Regions from separate parts of the Homo sapiens genome. Here region 2 is linked to region 1. The links come from fine-mapping of genetic effects on gene expression. A gene starts in region 1. The other region holds a variant in brackets. All regions are shown on one strand. Distances are from middle to middle.

What was found. PIP is the estimated chance that this variant, and not a neighbour inherited with it, causes the effect.
Region 2: its variant is fine-mapped to the expression of TICAM2 in whole blood (TOPMed, PIP above 0.99). The same link has a PIP of 0.9 or more in blood mononuclear cells and lung.

Annotation. Positions count from the first base shown.
Region 1 is chr5:115,598,067-115,608,811 of GRCh38, reverse strand. TICAM2 (TIR domain containing adaptor molecule 2) reads left to right here and starts at 6,333. Exons shown (of 2, transcript NM_021649.7): 1 at 6,333-6,715. The region is part of intron 3 of TMED7-TICAM2 (TMED7-TICAM2 readthrough); the gene reads left to right. It overlaps TICAM2-AS1 (TICAM2 antisense RNA 1), which reads right to left and starts at 6,657. Exons shown (of 3, transcript NR_109875.1): 1 at 6,352-6,657; 2 at 5,656-5,766. RefSeq lists a silencer at 6,342-6,841 and enhancers at 6,461-6,983, 6,932-7,011.
Region 2 is chr5:115,572,928-115,583,672 of GRCh38, reverse strand. TMED7-TICAM2 (TMED7-TICAM2 readthrough) reads left to right here. Exons shown (of 4, transcript NM_001164469.4): 4 at 2,358-5,177. The coding sequence ends at 2,358. It overlaps TICAM2 (TIR domain containing adaptor molecule 2), which reads left to right. Exons shown (of 2, transcript NM_021649.7): 2 at 2,358-5,177. The coding sequence starts at 2,417. The coding sequence ends at 3,124. Among named protein-coding and RNA genes, the nearest start is that of TICAM2-AS1, 24 kb to the left of the region's middle. RefSeq lists enhancers at 8,218-8,287, 8,318-8,367. The variant A/C (reference allele first, on the strand shown) is at 4,941.

The DNA of each region.
Region 1 (10,745 bases):
CAAATTTGTTAGCACTGTGTTTTTCCTGTACACTTAACATGTGCCAGATCTGTAAGGATGGTACCCTTTGTATTGCTTATATTGCATCTGAGATTGTTTGTATCTTTTTTCCTTGACTAGTCTTGCTAGAGGTTTATCATATTTATTGTTTTTGCTTTACAAAGAAGCCAATATTTTTGTTTTTCTTCTTTGTTATATTTTCTCTATTTTGTTGATTTCAGCTTTTTCTTTTCTATGTTAATATGTCATATTATTGTAGTGGATGGTTAGCTCTTCAAATTTTCAACTTTCTATTCTGATTTACATATTTAAAGCTATAGATTTCCATGATAATGCTACTTTATCTCTTGCGTTAGTTTTCTATGCTGGGTAACAAATTACCACAGGTTTACTGGTTTATAACAGCATAATTTTATTATCTCACAATTTCTTGGGGTTAAGAGTTTCAGCATGGCTTAACTGGGTCCTCTGTTTAGGGTCTCACAAGGCTGCAGTGAAGTCAGCTGAACTGCATTGTCATCTGGAGCTCACAGTTCTCTTCTAAATTAATCAGATTGTTGATAAAACTTAGTTCCTTGAAGCTGTAGAACTGAGGTCCTCAGCTACTTAGGGCTGCTCTTTTATATAAGCAGTGTAACGTGACATGCCTTTTTAAGGTCAGCAGAACTTCTGACTAGAATCTGTTTCAGAGAAGGCCAGAAAGAGTTCACTTGGTTAGGTCAGAGTCACCTGGGATAGTCTCCCTTTTGATTAAGTCAGAGTCAACTAAATAGGCACCTTAATTGCATCTGCAAAATCCTTTCACTTTTGCCATATTCTCTTACTAAATGTAACAGGCGTTGTCCACACAAAGGTATGGATATGGGGCTTGGAAAGGATTTCAGGAACCATCTTAGAATTCTGCCTACTACTAACTCCATTCTACAAGTCTCAATATCTAGCATTTTAGTTATTCACTAACTGCAAAGTTTTTTATTTCATTATCATTACTACTTTGATCCATAGATACTATTTGGAACTATAATTTCCAAACATGAATATTTAAGTTTTCCTTTATTGTTGATTTTTAACATAATTGAATTGTGATCAGATGATATATTCTCTATATGATTTAAATTCTTTGAAATGTGTTAACAGTTGCTTTATGACATAATAAGTGGCTGGTTTTTATAAATTTTAGGATGCTTGAAAAGAGTTCTACAGTTATTTATGTTCATTAATCATTTTAGTCATGTTCATTAATTTTCAAGTCTTCAGTATCCTTAGTGATGATTTTTTTGTTTTTGGTATATATCTCTTGATTACTAAGAGAATTGTGTTAAAATGTAGCTAGCATGATTTTAGATGTGTTTGTGTGATTCTTTCAATTTCTCTCTTTTTCTATTTTGTATTGGGATACAAATGTATAATTGTTATATTTTCCAGGTTAATTGAAAGAAGCTTTATCATTACAAAATTATCTTTATTTCCACTAATAAATTTTGCCTTAAAATTAATTTTATTTGATATTAATGTAGCTATACCAGCTTTCGTTTGGCTAGCACTTGTGTCGTATATCATTTTCCACAGTTTTACTTTCAGTCTTTGTGTATATTTAGTTTTTAGAGGTGTCTCGTTTATATCATATTGTTGTTACTATTAGTATGTGTCCTATCTGTTCTATGTTCCTTTTTTTCTACTTTTTTTTTGATAGTTTTGTTTTTGTTACTCCTTTTTTTCTTCTACCTATCAGATGGGATGTTGTATATATTTCTGTTCATGGTTGTTCTAGAAATTTCATTATGCATCTCTGACTTATCAACGCCTAAACTCGCCCAGACTTCTGCGCAGTGCAGTAGCCTTAGAACACTTTAATCCCATTTACTTTCCTCCCAGCTTATATATGTGGTTGTCACATATGTTGTATCTCTTTAAATGTAAGTTATTACTGTTGTTTTATATAGTTAATATTGACTTAGATTTACCCACAAATTTGCCACCTTTCTTACTCTCCATTCCTTGCTGTGTCTTTGAGCTTCCATCTGGAGTAATTTTTCTTTTGCCTGAGTATATGTTTAGAATTTACTTTAGTGCAGGTCACCTGGTGGCACATTTACTTTGCTCTTGTTTTTTGAAATGTCGTTATTTTGCCTTCTTTTTGAAGGACTTTTTTTTTCTCCCTTGAAATGGATGGTTATCTGGAAAGGTAAAGATAACTTTCCCTTGTATTCTGACTTCCACTGTTACTGGGAAGAAGTCACCTGTCAGTCTTTTGCTCCATTTAGACTAATCCATTTTTTTTTCCTCTGGCTGCTTTCACGATTTTCTCTTTGTAATTATAATTTTTTTTTTTTGAGTTTCATTGTGTTGTATATACGTGAGGATTTTATTGTATTTTCCCACTTAGGCTTTGTTTGGCATCTTAGATCTGTGGGTTGATACATCAGTTCTGGAAAATTCTCAACCATCATTGATTTGTTCAAATTTTGTTTAGAATCTTACATCTATATCCATGAGCGATGTTGGTCTTTAGTTTTCTGTTTTTGTAATGTCTTTTGTCTGATTAGTATGATACTAATGCTGGCTTAATAGAATGATTTCAGAAGTATTCCCTCCTTTTGAATTTTTTTGAAGAGTATGTGTAGGATTGGTATCATTTCTTCCTTAAATGTTTTGGTAGAGTTCACCATTGAAGTCACCTGGACATGAAGTTTTCTTTTTCGGAACATTTTTCACTACACCTTAATTTCTTTGATAGATTTAGGGCTTTTAAAATAATCTGTTTCATCTTGACTGTTTGGCTTTTAAGGATTTTTTCCATTTCATATAAATTGTTGAATTTGCTGGCATAAAGTTGTTCATAATCTTTCCTTAGTAACCTTTTAATAACTGGAATGTCATGTCCCTCTCTCATTTCTAATATTGGTAATTTGCATCTGCTCTCTTTTTTCTTGACTTATCTGGCTAGAAGTTTATTGATTTTGAACGTCCTAGTAAACCATCTTTTGGTTTTATTTCTGGGGGAATAAAGTACCATAATCAAGCTTAGTAATCCTTCTTCTTACCTTCCTCCAGGATTTTGACTAGATGGGATTCTTTGTCTAATGAAGTGACCTAAACCTTCATTTCTACAGAATTGAGCCGTTGATAGGCCTGTCTTTACTGGGTTGCTGCAGTTTTCCACTGACTAGGACTGTTAGCACTAAGAGGCATTCCAGTGAATTTCCTCGTTTCCATATATAGCCTATATAGCCTTCTTGTTTCCATTGTAAAACAGAAACACAGTTTTCCTCTGATAACTGGAATTAGCTACCCTGGCCAGTCCATTGAGCTGCTTTTCTGTTACTTTAATGGCATGAGGAACCTCAAAAGGCCAGGGCCAGTCTCGGCTCCTAAATCATCAAAACATGATTATTTTTCCTGAAGGAAGTGTTCTACTCTTGGACTCTAGAATTTCTAAACCCACCAAGCCCAACATTTTGGGAATGGGAAGCAAAAATTATTCACGTAGATTCTTAGGTATACTATTGAACAGAAACACTCCTTCTACCCTTTGGCTCTGAGACCTGTGCATCCTGATAGTGGGGAGACAGCTCCATATATTGACTGCTTATTAAATTAATGTACCACATTCTATAGGACACCACCCTACCTTTTCATGATGTTGCCTCCCAGATATCTCTGTAACCGAGCTCTCATTTTGCCACTCAGCTGTTCTATCAAGCTAGTTACTTTAGGAGATAAGCATGTGTTAAAACCATTGAATTCACTTCCATTGCCATAAACTGTGTACCTGGTTGGAAGAAATGTTTTTGGGATTCCTATGCAATGGATAAAACCTTCAGAAATGTCAAGAATATTAGTGCCAGTGGAAACACTGCAGGCAGAGAATGCAGATTTATACCTTGAATGTGAATTATCTTTGTGAAGACAAAGTGCTACCTATTTCTTATGGAAATTGCCCAATGTAACCATCATGTTACCGGGTTGCCAGCAAGTCTCATTGACAGTAATGCCATATTAGGAACCCAGCCTTGGAAATGTAGTCACACTCCACGTTGTTGCCAGGTTGGGCATTCGGCAATGATAGTAGCCAAATAATGTAGGTAAGGAGAAGACCATACTATTGAACCTCTGTCACTGCTTTGATAGCCACTTGGTACATGGGCCCATTAACCAAGCCCTGGGTTGGCTGGAGAAAAAGACTGACATCTACCAGACAATTCATCTTGTTCCGCTTATTATTGAAAATCTTCTCCACCTGATGCATCCTGTTAGGCACTTATGGGGGATATGAATATCTTCACATGCCCTCACCACTCCAAGAGGGTTATCTGTAAGTCTCACGGACAGATCTTTTACAAATTTTCCATTTTGTTCTTTCCAAGAACCTAAAAGCTGGACAATCCATTAGACACTGCCTGTAAGTCAGTATATTTATCAGTTTGTCATGTCGTCCCCTCCTTTCTTGAATGTGAATAACCAGGTATGTAGCTAGAAATTGCCCACTAGGAAGATTCGCTGTCCCCATTAGCAATGCACGGATCTGAAATTGTCTCACTTCTTTACATATCTGTCTGTCTCCCAGATTAGACTATAAAATCTCCATGAGAACTAGGACTGTGTCTCCTGTTCGCACAATATCCCTAATGTCTAGCACATAGAATATATTCTAAACATATGTGGCGTAAGTGATTGATGCATTTTCTTGAACATTTGGAGAGAAAATGTTAAGCAATTAAACTTGTAACCAATTTAAGATTTTTTTTAGTACATGTGACTGTATTATGAAGAACAATGCAAAATTTGGAGCAATTTACAAGAAGATGGAACAGTTCAAGTAAATTTGCCCATGACACTAGTGACTTCAGGCTCTTTTATGTATGCAACCTAAGTGATGAATAGGGAAGTACGTGTTTATGGAATCTGTCATTGGTGGTATTTCAGTGGGAAAATGTGAAAAGCTCTGATTTTGAAGGGTTGCCAGAGAAAGAGGAACAGGCAGAGGAAACTGAAAGAAGAATTTTTTTTTTTTTTTTTTTTTTTTGAGACGGAGTCTCACTCTGTGGCCCAGGCTGGAGTGCAGTGGCGCGATCTCGGCTCACTGCAAGCTCCGCCTCCCGGGTTCAAGCCATTCTCCTGCCTCACCCTCCCAAGTAGCTGGGACTACAGGCAGCTGCCACCACTCCCGGCTAATTTTTTGTATTTTTTAGTAGAGACGGGGTTTCACCGTGTTAGCCAGGATGGTCTCGATCTCCTGACCTCGTGATTCACCCGCCTCGGCCTCCCAACAGGCCTGAAAGAATTTTAACAAGCAGGATGAGCATAAAGGCAAAGTGGGGTTGTCAACATCAAGGAAACAGAGTGTTGGGAAACAATGGTCGACTTTGTCAATCGCCAAAGAGACTCCCAGGAAAAATGAGGGCAACAAAAGTATCAGTTGGATTTAGGAGGCCACTGCTTACCCAAAGAGTTCAGGTAGAATTGTTGGGAGGTGCAGTGGTTGGAGAATCAACTCCGTGAATAATGAATTGTGTTGACACGGTACATAATACGGTATTTCTGACTACATTGGCGGCATTTCACTAAGTAATTACTACCTGAAGTGCCTACCTTCAGTAAGGCATCCTGTTGTTGGATGGGGAAAGAGAAGGAGGAAATAACTCTTAGCTTTACCTGTACTGTGCTTCTGAGACCCAGGTATGGACCTTCACTCCCAATTTACTATCCATGGTCTCATCCGATGTTCAGTAACTGGGTTCTCCTTTGGCAGGGAGTAGGGATTGCCTGAGAATTAAAAGGGGAGGGGAGATTTCTGAACTGGACCTCTTAGGTTATGACTAGATTGGGTGCCTGAGGCAGCAATGGGGCTTTATAAGGCTTCTTTACGCTTCATTTAACTAATTGCTTTTTTGTTCTCTCTTATTCAGTGGAGTTCCAATCTGTTCGGTTGTGGAGAACGAACCTGAGAAAAAGGATCTTTCGCAGGGTAGTTTTTGGGGGCAGAGGCTGATGTGCTGCACCCCCTAATCAGGGGTATGGTTGGCTGCAGTAGTCAAGTGAGAGGGCCGCAAAGGGAAAGGAAAAGTCGAGACTATCTTAGGGAACCAGGAGAGTCGCTGTACCTCTGAAAGATCTACGGTTTGTCTGGTCTGTAAGGAGCAAACACGGTGGAATTCCTTTCCAGATTTTTCTGGGCCTCGACCTCTGGCTTTTGGGGTACATGCCAAAAAAAAAAAAAAAAAAAAAAGCGCAGGGAGAGTCCACTAGCCTCGGTGACAGTTCCCCATTGCGGTTTCCCCTCCTCCACCCTTCTTTGCGAGCTCCTTCCCTCTGCAGAGAGTTATCCCGCCACATTAACCCCTGACTCACAGCTGGACCGCCCCGGCCCGCAGCGCCACGTCCCGGGTGGGGCCTGCCACGGCAAAGCAGCAGTCCGGCCTCGAGCGGCCCCTCGGGGGCGGCGGGGTGGGCGCCAACAGCAGTCAGGCCTGACAAGCGGCGACCTCCAAGGGTGAGGCCTCTGCGGGCCCCCGACTCACGCGCGTCCGGGCTCTGCAAGCGCGGTGGGGAGCAGGCTGCTGTGGTCGCGGGGACTGGGTTGCGGCGCGCCGCGTACGGGACGGCCCCAAACTCTCGACGCCCGGGGCAAGACGCCCACCCCCTGGGCGCTCTCGCTGGGCCAGAAAGGAAGACAGAAAAGCCGCGGGCTGACTGTGGTGGCGCTCGCCTGCAGGCAAGTACCGGGCGCTAGGGCGGGGGCCGCCGCCGGGGGCGCGGGGTGGGCTGGGGCCAGGCCGCCAGGGGCGCGGGGTGGTCTGGGGGCCAGGCCGCCTGCGCTACCTCCCCAGCCTACCCGACCCGACGGCGCGGGTGCTGGCGCTGTTGTCCCCAGCGGGGCGGGCAGGCCTTTCCGTCACTTGGCTTACTCTGAAGGGAAAATCCACACAGCTGTCTGCCTTTTTGTTTCATTTTGACTAGAAAACCCATTTTCGAAAAGACACCTCAGAACCATAAGCAAATAGCCCAGAGTCTTAAATGCTCTAAAGGCTCTGCATGAGCCCCTGCCAGGCACACAGAGCCAGTGCTGGAGGTTTTGGCATGGGTTTTCCTACTTGGCTTTTTGTGCAAAGCTAATTTGGATAAAAATAATTTGACTGGCAGCTGTGAGCTAGTTTTCAGTGTATTAGGACCTCTCCAGCTTTCCACGGTAGTAAACTTCTTAAAGAAAGTATTTTAAAATATTCTCATATTTATTATTATTTTTTAATTTATCCTTTTAATTTTGAAAAGCAAGGGTGGGAAAGGCTATATGATCTGGAGGTAAAAATACACCATTATATAGAGTTGAAGTGTCATCCCCTGAACCCACATTGCACGTCTACACAGGAGAAGAACTTGTCCTTCTCCAAGTGTTTAGTATTCCTTAGATTAGTGTTTTTCAAACAAGCCTGATGGTAAGACGCATTTGGGACTTTTGTTTAAAATGCATCCCCCCACCTCTGAAGGTTTAATTTGGTAAGCTTGATTTCCAGAATCTGTATTTCTATTTTTTTATTGTTTAATTTAATTTTATGTTCTGGGATACATGTGCAGGACTTGCAGGTTTGTTACATAGATAAACGTGTGCCATGGTGGTTTGCTGCACCTATCAGCCCATCAATCCTTACATTTTAATATTTTGAAGTAGTAGGATGGTTATAAATGGAGTTAAGCAACTCCACTTTATATCTCATTCAAATCAGAAAATAGATAAGCAGGTATAGAATATTGACACCTACATTTGAAGCAAAGTAAATGTGACATGTACGCCTTACCGTATGGAACTTGAAGTATAAACCATGTTTACACTGTTGAATCATGGGCATCTGTGTTGAGTCATTTGTTCCTTATGCTATTCTTAAAATGTATTCATTTAACAAATATCTGCTGTTAAATCTTCTGTCTTTAATCCCCCCTAGACCACACATCCCATTCTAGGTCCCGCTCCCCTACTTTGCTTCTTTTTATAACAAACAAAAATCCTCTTTGAAAGATTTAATCTAAGTCTCCATTTTCATTTTCCCTGTTTCTTCCTACCCCCTCTCATCTGAGGCTTTTTGTCCCCATTACCCCCTGCATGGTCCTGATGTTGCCAATGACTGTCTTGTGAAATCCAGTGTCTGTGCACAGTTCTCATCTTTCCTGACCCCTCAGTAACATTTGATCACTCCCTCCTCAATATTCTTTTTTCTTCACTAATGTTCTTCACTAATATTCTTTCTTCTTCACTTGGCTTCCAGGTCACCATATTCTGCATTTCATTCTGCTTCATTGTGTCTCCAGGCTTCCCCACCACTAAATCTTAGTATGCCACAGAGTTCATTTCTTGGCCATATTTTTCTAGCCATACTTTCCCCCAGGACAATTTGTATCCCAAGCCATATTCCTTGGCTATAAATAATATCTATCAGCTGATGACTTCCAAAATTTTATTCCTAGCTTTAGTTCGCTTCTGAGCTCCAGATGTATGTGTATGTCCAGCTGTTTACTCAGCATCTCCACTTGGAAGTCTGATAGGCATTTAAATTTAGTATGGACAGATAGAACTACTGATGCCAGATTCACCAAGTTCTCCCTCTGTTTCCCCTCAGCTCCCTCCCTTATCTCAATAAACAGCCTCAGTTACTGCCATTCAAGTAGGCCGGAATTCTAGGAATTTACTCTTGACTTCTCTTTTTAGGTCAGACTCCGCATCCAAGCATCCAACAAAATCTGTTGACTCTACCCAGATCTGCCCACCTCTCTCTCCCTCTCTAAGCTAAGCCACAGTCCTCTCCTACCTACATGATTGAGAAGTCTCTGCCTCTGCCCTTGCTCCTCTACAGTCTTTTCCAAATAGCAGTGATTTTTGTCATACATACTCAGAACTTTCATTTCCCTTCAAAACCTTCTGGTGGCTTCTTATCAGAATCACAAAAAAAAAGAAAGAAAAAAAAAAGAAAAGAAAAACAGGCTTACAATGGCTTTAAAGCCCTGTGTGATCTAGTCCCTGACTAGTTCTCTGAACTCATCTCCTGACTTCCCTCTCATCCACTCCACTGTAGTAACACTGATTGTGCTGCTGTTGCCTTTGCCTGCAGCTGGTGTCTGCTAGACCATTGCACACTGTACTCCCTCACTTCTCTGTTAGCATGCTGCCTCAGGGGTTACTGTGCTATTGCAGCAAGATCTCTTTTGCTGCTGGGCCTGTGCGGTAGGTTGCTATTAAATACTGAATGCTACTCTCTAGTATTCCATGAAGCTTATGGAACCTTTAAAACATTGTTGGTTGCTTGAGTTCCCTAATATTAAAAATGCACAACCATTTTTCTTTTGAGCCTAATTTTGATAAGATGGACAGTTTGCCTTTAAGTTCTATGTTTTTATAAAATCTCTTCCTGATTTGGAGATTTGCCCTTTACCATCAGTTTTCATTTTTAGATACAGAAAATGGAAGAAAAATATCCAGTTCACTAAAAAGAATATGTAATAATATTTGGTGGGGGGCAGTTACTTTGCCCCCCTCCCCCCACCAATAGGGGCAATAGGAAATAGGAAGCAATAATCTAACATTTGGAGACTCTTTGAATGGTACCAGCAGCAGGTAGTTTATGGGAAGAAGAAAAATAAAGACACTTGTTCAGAGAATAATATACAAGTTTCTAAGTTCTGCAGTGACTAAGCCAATGTCAGAGTTGTGAAGATTTTATAAGATATTATATAAATTGAACTTTTTTTTTTTTTTTTTTGAGACAAGGTCTTGCTATGTTGCCCAGGCTGGTCTTAAACTCACAGGCTCAAGCAATTTTCCCACCTCAACCTCCCAAATAGCTGGGCCTAGAGGCACATACCACTGCATCTGGCTCCAGTTCTCTTTTGAGGACTATGTAGAAATGAAAAACAATATTTTCATCTTTATGAAGAGGTGTAGCAACTAAAAGATTGTTTAATTTATAATCCTTATTTCTCATTTTAATCTCAAGGAACTGGTTCTGTTATCAGTAGCGTATGTACTATCACCCCTTCTTGTAAAAGAAAAGAAGAAAATTCCTTCTTATTTCAGAATTAGGATTTAAGATACTTTAATAAATATTTCCAATATAAGATTAAATTAAATTAAATAATAAGTAGATTTGGAATATCGAACAGAGAGAAGAGTAGGGGGGTTAAGCAGAAACTAGGAGTGAAGTTATTAATAGTATCAAAACACTTGCCATAAGCTTCTGTCTGTTGGCCAGAGCACTCATTAACGTGGAGCTTCCTAGCAACTGAGTGAAGAGATAGGGTCCACAAGATGAAAAAGCAGTGCCCAGGTGAAGATCGGATAGAAGCATTTTTTTAAACATTTACTTGCTCAAGGACCTGTTTTAGGTACGATGAAGATGAATGTTCTGTCCTTTGGTACTTAAGAAGAGTGTTGGAGAAGCCCTGTTTGGTTTAGAGTTAGCAAACCCATGCTCTTGGAATATTTGCATATAAATAAAAAACAGATGAAATAGAGCTAAACCTGGAGATAGGCTAAACTCATTTGGAACGTAGAGATAGAGCATGTAAGGAAGACACTTACCAAAGGTGTTGGAAAAGATATATATAAGGAAGATACTATTTAGATGGAAATCAAATCAACATAATTGACATAATTGTTGACAATTATTGACCTAATTGATATTTATAAAAATATAAAGCCTAGAAAATGAATTTTTATTTACTAAAAAACTATTTTTTCAGACTGTGTGATCATTGTT
Region 2 (10,745 bases), 25 kb after region 1:
TCTCTCCATGTCTGAGTCACAGTGGTGGTGGGAACAGCACAACTTTCCACAGCTTGTTCCCTTGGCAGTCTCCTTACTCCCTCCCTCCAGATTAGAAGATGATGGTAAAGTTTTATAGACATTGCCACTAGTTTTTTTCTCTCGGTCTGATTAGGTGGGTGACACTGCTTGGAAGTTGGAACACATCATAGATTTCTGAAGTCTTTTGCTCTTTTTTGCTAACTGGTATTTAAGAAAAATAAGTCGAAGTTGTAATTCTTTGTTTTTATTTTAAAAGATTTTGTGATCTGCCTTGACACACTATCTTACCCTAGAAGTTTTTCATATTCTTTATAAATAGCTGTTATATTCCTTCAAAGCACTTGTCTTACCGGCTAGTGACTAAGATAATGGTGTTGAATTCAGTGATAAGTGTAGATCATTTTAATTGACAGTAAATAGATGCCTCTGGATGGTTTAACTATTGTTTTCTCATTCAGGGGAAACTTCTTTCTGCAACTTTGCATAGCAAAACCCTTTTTTTTTACGATGCAGTAACAAAAGTCAGCAGTGAATCCTAATCAATGAAGAGAGTCCAAATTAATTTGGTTTTATTATTTTGGATGGATATATGTCACATTTTAGAGTTATTATGCCTTAGAATACCTCTTGGTAACTAGCACAATATACCGTGGAGCGAGAACCTAAAGTACAGACAGAGTGAATGACGGAGTGGTCAGCAGTTTCCTCACTAGTCAGAGGCAGCTGCAAACATTTTTACTCACATACATTGAATGAAATTCTCTGTTTTTTTCCTTGGTTTTTGTTCCCATGACAGTTTTCACCACTTTTGTTGAACAGTTTCTTCTAAACCTGAATTATGTAGGCATATGTAGCCATGTTACTTATGTTGTTATGAATGTTATAATTTCTTCTTGAGGTATGGCCTTTGCCCATAAAGAACAAGTAGAAATGCTCTGGAATATAGTCTGTGGCTCACATTTGAAAGTATGAAACCTGTATTTATATATTCTAAATGTTCTGTCTTTTAATAAAAGAATTCCCCTTGAAACTGCCTGTCTGGGGGATTTTATTAGGAATATTGCCAATGTTTTCTGAAGACTTATTTAAATTAGATTCACATGGTATACTTTTCTTTCACAGTTGATCTAGTTCTTCCACTCTGAATTTAGAATTTTTTTAAATAAAAGAATGAGTCTAGGCCAGACGTGGTAGCTCATACCTGTAATCCCAGAGCTTTGAGAGGCTGAGGCGGGAGGATTGCTTGAGCCCAGGAGTTCGAGACCAGCCTGGGCAACATATGAAACCCCATCTCTACCAAAAAAAAAAAAAAACCAAAAAAAAAAAAAATTAGCCAGGTGTGTGGCATGTACCTGTAGTCCCAGCTACTCCAGAAGCTGAGGTGGGAGTATGGCTTGAGCCTGAGAGGCAGAGATTGCAGTGAGTTGAGATCACACCACTGCACTCCATCCTGGGCAACAGAGCCAGACCTTGTCTCAAAAAATAAATAAATAAATAAATGAATAAATAAATAACAACAAAAACAAGAATGAATCTAGACTATAATCATTCTTTGTTGATTTCACTGGAGAAAGTCTCAAGTCTTTGTTTCTAGAGTTCATTTCCAAACTGAGATGTTAATTTTTCCTTAGGTGAATAAATATATTTTCTTCAGTAGTTACAGGATTCGTTGGAAAAAGATATTTCTTACTTTTCACACACTCTTATTATAATTTATTCTCCATTAGATTCACCATCACCACAATGCCTGACTCCAGACAAACAAAAAAAAGCTCCGAACCAGTAAATCCTGGACATCATTTCACTTGACATTTCAGATCTTCTGTTTATGCTGTCAGTAGAGATGCTGCCAGTCATTGTTAGGATATTTGTGTTCTATTTTGTTTGTGCTTGATACAGAAATATATTTATGCTTAATTGAATATTCAGTTTCTTTATATTTTCCTGTTTCTAGTCTACATGGTAATTTGATAATGGAGAAATTAGATTTAAACTGCATGAAAAGATAAAGCGGTATGGTACCTATCACAAAAATACCAACGTAATTTATTTCAATCTGGAGGTTTGTAGTGCTAATATAACACCATTTACATTTTCCGAATGTCTCCTATTATATTAAACTGGACCCTTTATTTAATGTTCCCTTCGCTGCCTGTGATAGCCCTTGTAAAGCTCACAAAAGATTAGTAGTTTAGCTTCCCAATTATCTGTTTGTCGTTTATGTATTTGGATCTGTCTATTATAATCTTTTTGAGCTTTTCAGTTTGAATGAAAGTTTCCATTTTTAATGTTTTGATTAAATTTATAATATTCTTCTGTTTTGTTACTTCTTTTAGATTGAAAAGAAATGCTGAGAAATACATAAAGTTTTCCTCTTCTGCCTTGGATATTTATAATGGGTATCGGGAAGTCTAAAATAAATTCCTGCCCTCTTTCTCTCTCTTGGGGTAAAAGGCACAGTGTGGATACAAGTCCAGGATATCATGAGTCAGATTCCAAGAAGTCTGAAGATCTATCCTTGTGTAATGTTGCTGAGCACAGCAATACAACAGAGGGGCCAACAGGAAAGCAGGAGGGAGCTCAGAGCGTGGAAGAGATGTTTGAAGAAGAAGCTGAAGAAGAGGTGTTCCTCAAATTTGTGATATTGCATGCAGAAGATGACACAGATGAAGCCCTCAGAGTCCAGAATCTGCTACAAGATGACTTTGGTATCAAACCCGGAATAATCTTTGCTGAGATGCCATGTGGCAGACAGCATTTACAGAATTTAGATGATGCTGTAAATGGGTCTGCATGGACAATCTTATTACTGACTGAAAACTTTTTAAGAGATACTTGGTGTAATTTCCAGTTCTATACGTCCCTAATGAACTCCGTTAACAGGCAGCATAAATACAACTCTGTTATACCCATGCGGCCCCTGAACAATCCCCTTCCCCGAGAAAGGACTCCCTTTGCCCTCCAAACCATCAATGCCTTAGAGGAAGAAAGTCGTGGATTTCCTACACAAGTAGAAAGAATTTTTCAGGAGTCTGTGTATAAGACACAACAAACTATATGGAAAGAGACAAGAAATATGGTACAAAGACAATTTATTGCCTGAGATGAAACATATAACATGTGGCTGGCTCTTGTTTTGTAAACCAAATGATTAATCTTCACTTGAGAAAGCAGTTTCTAGGAAATGTTTAAATAAAAGAGAGTCTTCACCTTAAAGAAACCTATGGAGCACAAGAAAGATAAATTTCTGCAGGACAGCCTATAAAATTGTGGTACTTTTTGATGTTTCAGTAAACTTGACATTGTCAGAGTTTCAAGGACTTTTCTTTCACAATTTTCCTAGTTCATGGATATGAAAAAGGAATTCTCAATCCATATTCCTTGTATTGAACCTTGAACAAAAACTTGTATGACAGACATTTTTAAAAATGTGACAACACTTTTATTCTCTGAATTTTGATCTCAAAGGACACAGAAAAAAAATGGCCCCAGGAGATCTGATCACACTTCCTCCTGAGGCACCTCTCATGGATGTTGCAATAAGCATTCGGGTACTATCACCCAGAAATATGAATTGCCAGAATAGAACATTTAGCATGTTAAGCGTTGATGCATATAAAATCAGAAATAGATGTGAGAATGGTGGAACTTTTTAAAAGAACCCAGTCAAATGTATTTTCTGCTGAAATCTGCATATTTGGAGGCATTTCCCACCACCGATTCACAGCCCATTTGATAGTGTGGTAGTTAGGGACTTCGTGGAGTGGTGTTCAGACGTCCCCTGGGGCTTAAATCTCTTCATATTAGTCATCATTTGTAACTATGGCTTTATTTGCAGAGCTTCTAAAAGGCGTATAACTGTGTGAGTGGCCAGATATTCACTTTTTAAATCAAAAACCTCTCTTATGGAAGCTTTAAAAGTTTCCGTCACACACAATTCTCTTCTCAGGAAGTATTTCTCATTTAGGTCTTCAAAGTAGCCTGACTGTGTGCATGTGTGTGTGTGATAGGTTATTTATAAAGACTTTGGATAGAAGGAGATGTATTTTATTACCTCCTATTCTAGAGCCCCATGCTCCTAACAAGCCAGAGAGGCCCCAAACAGGATTGTTTCTTTCCTCCACAGCCCTTCTGCCCATCTGAGATTGAGGGAGCATCGTCCACTTGAGATCAGGGATGGGGTGGAGAATGGGTCATGTCATGTAATGAGAAAAGCCCTCTTCGGGATCATGAGACTTGGTTCTAGTCCAATTTCTGCCACTGAGGATGAATGTAACTGTGGGCAAACTATTTACCCTCCTTTATCTGTGAAATGAAAGGGTTGAATTGATGGATCTCTAAAGGCTTTTGTCCTCTATGAGGATGTGAAAAACTAGGGACCACAAAAGGGAACAAGCAAAAAAGTTTGGATTCGATAAAGTGATATGTAATAGTTGCAGAAGGCTTTATATATGCTTATAATGAAAAGATATTTTTTGTATATTGACAGCATAATTTATTTTTAATGCTGTCATTACACTTAAAGTCACAGGAAAAAAATATACATGCTTACTCAGGCTTTCTTAAAAATAAATTTTTATAGAGATCCTTGAGTAAAGACATTTTGCTTAATTTCTTTTTTCTTATTCCCCACTTGTATATCCCCTACCAGTACCGGGATCTGCACACATCTTTTTGCAGTTACCTCTTCATAGCCATGAACCAAAACGTTCTATGAGGAGCATGCAAGTAAGTCAAGCCTCCTATTCTGTTAGTACTTATTAGAGGAGGAGATGGTTTTCATTGCATAGTGACATTTTCTTAGCCTTAACGTTCTGATAGTAGCTTACTACTCACTTCTCTTTTTCAGTTTTCATAATAAGTATTCATTTTTTTGCCATAATGCTTCCTGTAAAGCCAATTTTATATACTAATAAAAC[A/C]TGAACTGCCCACTCTTCATGCCTGCCAAACTTGGGGCAATTGATGCTAAATGGTATTTTTAAAATAAATGTTTTTATTCTTTACTCTTGACTAAACTTGTTTATTTTCAACTCCAATGAAGATTGTGGAAGAGTGTTTTGAAATGAAGCATCGATTTGTACTTCATAGAGCACCAGACACAATGTCTCACCCAATTTGGAGTTCCATATTTTTTTTATGATAAAGAAAAATGTTGGCCGGGCGCGGTGGCTCACGCCTGTAATCCCAGCACTTTGGGAGGCCGAGGCGGGCGGATCACGAGGTCAGGAGATCGAGACCATCCCGGCTAAAAACGGTGAAACCCCGTCTCTACTAAAAATACAAAAATTAGCCGGGCGTAGTGGCGGGCGCCTGTAGTCCCAGCTACTTGGGAGGCTGAGGCAGGAGAATGGCGTGAACCCGGGAGGCGGAGCTTGCAGTGAGCCGAGATCCCGCCACTGCACTCCAGCCTGGGCGACAGAGCGAGACTCCGTCTCAAAAAAAAAAAAAAAAAAAAATGTTAAGTGCTGAATTATTATATATGTTGAAATTATCAATTGTAACAAAATAGCTAAACTGAGGATGAAAACAGGTAAAGGTGTGGGCTTTGTCATGTTTGTTGTGTACATATGTGCGTGTGCACACACCCATACACACATGTACATATCTAGGTACATACACATATCAGGAAATATGGGAAATTTTGCACTATGCTGGGGAGCTTTCATTTTGAGTACTCTGTGGGCCTTATTGCCCACCCTGGAGCTTTACAGGGGAGAACCCGAGTTGAGCCTCATGTATCAGTTAGGAAAACCCCACGCCACGTGGCCTAAACCATAAGAAAAAAATATTATCCGACTTAACAAGAGGTCCGCCAAGGTACAGGGGCTCAAATGTGTCATTAAAATCCCAGTCATATACTGAAATATTATTCAGTTCTAAAAAGGAATGAAATTCTGATACATACCATAACATGGGTGAACCTTGAAAACATTATGCTAAGTAAAATAAGCCAGATACAAAAGGACAAATATTATAGGATTCCACTTATATAAGGTAAATTCACAGAGACAGAAAGAATAGAGGTTACCAGGGGCTGAGGGCAGGGAGGAATATGGAGCTATTGTTTAATGGGTACAGAGTTTCTGTTTGGGGTTGTTGAAAACGTTCTGGAAATGGGTAATGGTGATGACACACAACATTGCGAAATGTACTTAATACCACTGAATTGTACACTTAAATATGGCTAAAATGATAGATTTTATGTTATATATATTTTACCACAATACAAGTTGAATATCCCTTATCCAAAATGCTTGGGACCAGAAGTGTTTTGGATTTTGGATTTTCATATTAGAGATGCTCAACTTGTAATTAAAAAAAAAAAGAAAAGGTAAAAAAACAAACCCAGGTTCTTTCCATCTTTTTGCTCTTCCATTCTCAGTGTTTCGGTTGAGCTCCCTTCCAAGGTGTAGCCTGGCTGCTCCAGTGTCCGACACTGTATACAGACATGACAGTGTCCAGCCTAATAAGATGATAGGAGTGGTCCACCCATATGGAAAAAATAATTCATCACTGCATTATTGAAAATTGTTGATACCCAGTAATGATAAAGAGCCATCTGACTCCCAGCTGGTTCCATTATTTCAAAATTCTCCCTACCCCTACCCTGAGTGGACACCTCCTAGCCTCCCTGCATCCAAACATCTTCCAACACCGTTTCTGAGTCAGACTACCTGGATTTGAATTCCACCTCTGTCCTCTGTAAGTGATGTTCTTAAAAAGACACTTAATTTTTTTGAGTTTTAATGTCCTCATCTAAAAATAAAGATCATAAATACCTCCCTGAAAGGTCATTTTGAGGATTTAATGAGCTAGTGCCTCACATATAGCTACCATATCTATGCTACTAGAACTATTTTTTGTTGCCTACACACATTCAATATGCAGCATGGGTTGGCGGGCAGGACACATATGCATTTTTACATACCCACAATCCTATCCTTGGAAACCTCGCAACTTGTAGGGAATAGATTTTAAACAAAGACAAAGGAAGATGCCAGGCCTTGTTCCCATGTGCAGTACAGCCCCCAGTCAGGCACTGAAAAGCAGAGGAGCCCCCTTGATCAGCAAGAGATGTGTGAGCTGTTAATGATGAGTATGAGTGCGGAGGAAGCTGGTGGCATGAAGGATGCAAGAGCATGGTGCCATGATTCTAACAAGTAGAAAGTTGAGCCATAAACTAGAAAAGCAGGAAAATGGAGTCTAGGAGTGCCAGCTTTGAAGTCAGTTAGGAGGAAGAATGGCTCAGACCTGGATGCCTTCAGTGGAGTTTTGTTGCTCCTTACACTTAAAAATGGTGGATCAACTTTGTGTTCATTTGATTATGGAGGGCAGAGGGTGTAATCCGTTTAATTTAGCTCTTTTCTGGGGCTTAGCAACTCCCAGATAATTTTGCCTCATTTGGGAATAGGCTGTATGAGTTTAGTTATACTATTCCCCTTGGGTTGGGTGGAGAAGGGAGTAAGAGTATCACTAGTCTACTCTGCTCCTTTCTTTCCTGACTAACTTAAGTTCTGCCTTGAATTCAACAAGCTGTTTGCTGGGGTTAACGCTTTCCAGCACAAGTCAGGGATGTTTTCCGCTTCAGTCCCTCATCCTTCAATTTTGCAGATCCTAATGCATTGGTTGTCAAAACCACTTCACTGCATAGAAGGTAACACCACTAGTAACAGAAATAACTTCCCTTGGCCCTCTCATTTGCAACAGCTCATTCCTAAGGCCCAATCCCAGTTCCTGATGGTGGATGTTGTTCCAGCCTGGAAAGCTTAATCACTTCCTCTCCAGTAACGAATAAATAGACTAGATTTCACTGAGTCATCTGTCTGCCCAGCAAAGGACCCTGCAAAAAAGAGATCAAAGTGGTTTTCACAGTCTTGTTGCAAAGGAAATCTGAGTTGGGGCCCAAGTATTCAAAGGGTGTAGAGTGGCTCAATATTAGTATCTAATTCAGGAGAATCATTTCAGTGCAGGCAAAGGATTTCAGGTCCTTTATCTGTACATTTTGCAGGTAAAAAACCTCAGTGCAGGTAAAGAAACCACATGCCATGCTGTGGAGTCAGGCTATTCCCAACTGTAGAGAAAGTCCATTGATCCATGAGTGTGGTGGGGCTGGCCCCAGGGCTAGTGAGAAGCTGTTGCCATGGCTGCATTGCTGGTAAGGTGGGATTCCGTGTGTTTGCCCTGAGCAATCTGCGCTGCCTCTGTGACTTTCCTCCTCTTCTCAGTCTTACACCGCCTGGTCTTAGGTCATCTGCTAAGCTGTCACAGAAAGTGACGTACCCTCCACACCTGTGGATGGTCTGAAGGGCAAGGAGGAAATTTCAGAAAGCTGTCAGGCACTTGATGAAATGAAACCACAGCATCTGGAAGTTGATGTCCTTAAGCCAATGACCAGAAGGAATGAACCAGAGAACTGATGTTGTTGTCCATGGACCTGATGTTTCTTATGAGATTCCAAGTAGAAAAATTTATTAGATTTTGAACACTTAACGGCTGGATAAGGACAACTTTCTTATATATATATATATATATATATATATATATATATATATATATATATATATATATGTCATATGTGGCAATACTCTTGTCAATTAACATATTAAGTTTGGATTGAGGTAAGTAATACTTGAAAGTGCCATTAATTAATAACTCAGAGCATGAAAATTATTTGATTAAAAGCTCAATGAGGCTGGGTGTGGTGGCTCATGCCTGTAATCCCAGCACTTTGGGAGGCCAAGGTGGGTGGATCACGAGGTCAGTAGTTCAAGACCAGCCTGGCCAAGACGGTGAAACCCCATCTCTACTGAAAATACAAAAATTAGTCAGGCGTGGTGGCAGGTGCTTGTAATCCCAGCTACTCAGGAGACTGAGGCAGGAGAATTGCTTGAACCTGGGCAGCAGGGGTCGCAGTGAGCCTAGATCTGGCCACTGCACTCCAGCCTAGGCGATACAGTGAGACTCTGTCTCAAAAAAAAAAAAAAAAAAAAGCTCAACGAATTAACTTGTGGAAAAAAAGAAAGACAATTGCTCTTCTCTCTTCTCCTTTGCCAATGAACCTGCTCTCACAACTGTTTACTCCAACATCTATACTCCTTCACAGTTGCCTTCCTTTCTGTCATGAGCAAGAATTGTTCTGGGGAAATCACTTCTTTAGTTAGTTTAACACACTTCTATTTCTCTTCAGATAGAGTGAGTTCTGAGTCATTTTCACTCTGAGGTGAATAATTAGAAATGCTTTTATTAGCAAGTAACAGGAACCTGCATTTAAGCAGTTTCCAAATCTAATTAGAAATGTTGCTTTCAGCTACCTACTCAAACTACAGGTTTAAATCAAGAAAATTGTTTTTTTCTATTATTTGTAGGGGACCTCTACAAACTAGCTCCTTCCGGAGGTTTTCCATGTATATATTGGACAGGACACATAACAAGCTTTACAGATTTCTGTATATTTTATGTGTATTTATAAATAATGCTATCACATTAAAATGTTCTAAAATTAGATTGCAGTGCTGGTTGCACAACTCTGCACATATACTAAAAACTGTTGAGTTGTATACTTGAAATGGGTAAATTTTATGGTATGTAAAATATATCTCAATAAAGAACCTAAAAAATACTCTCGAGCAAAGATGACAATAAAATGCTACAGTGATTTGGAAACATGATTTAGCAATGACTAGTAATGTTGAAGATGGGCATATCTTATGAATCTAGCAATTCTACCTCTGGATTTGTATCCCAAAGAAACTCTCTCACAGGTACCCAAAGAAGCACGAGTGAGAAGGATGCCTATGCAGCATTCTTTGTAATAGGTAAATAATGGGAAACAATCTAAATGTCCATCAGTAGGAGGATGCAGGAATACATTATGGCAGGTTCATGAAATCAATACTATAGGGCATTAAAAATAACTAGGAAACCTACATATGTGAATATGGGTAAATTTCTAAAATGTAATATGTGGGAGAAGTAAATTATAGAATAATATGGATAATTTGATAACATTTATATAAAGTTTTAAAACGTACAAGACAGCTCTGTATTTTTAATGGGTACTTACATTGGTGATGGTATATTATTTTCCATGCTCTCCTGTATGTTTGAAAAAGTTCATAATTATTTTTTAAATTAGCATTCACTTGTAGTCATGTTAAGTGCTGTAGATGTTTCCTACACGTGCAATGATTTGAGGAACTAAAAAAAGATGAAGACTGTCAATGGGTAGAGAAATATATGCTTGTAATAATACGTTTCATTTTTTATCACCTACTGTGTTTGGCACTTAACTTACATTATCTCCAGTGTTCCCCAGATTCCTACAAGGTTAGTCATACAGTGTCCAATACTGGGCCAAGAAACAGATGCTGGAAATGTAATATACCCAAGATCACAGGCTGGTAGAGGATGGAGTCATTGAAATATTCAGTGGTCTGGCTCCAAAGCCTTGTGGGTCTTAGGCTTCATAATTGTGCTTCTCAATGTACCTGTCTGCTTTTCTCATGGTGGAGAAATTAGGAGAGGCCAGTAGTACAAAGAGAAAACCATAACAAGTTCATGGTGAGGTTGCCATAATTCTAGTCTTCTTTGCCTAGTATGCACAACTCATGACAGAGAGTCTCAGGAACTATGCGTCCTAATTCCACTGTGCTGCTGTGGAGCTAACTTTTCTAATCTTCACTTTCCTCCAGAAGACTCAAAGTATTGCAGTAGCTGATTTCTAA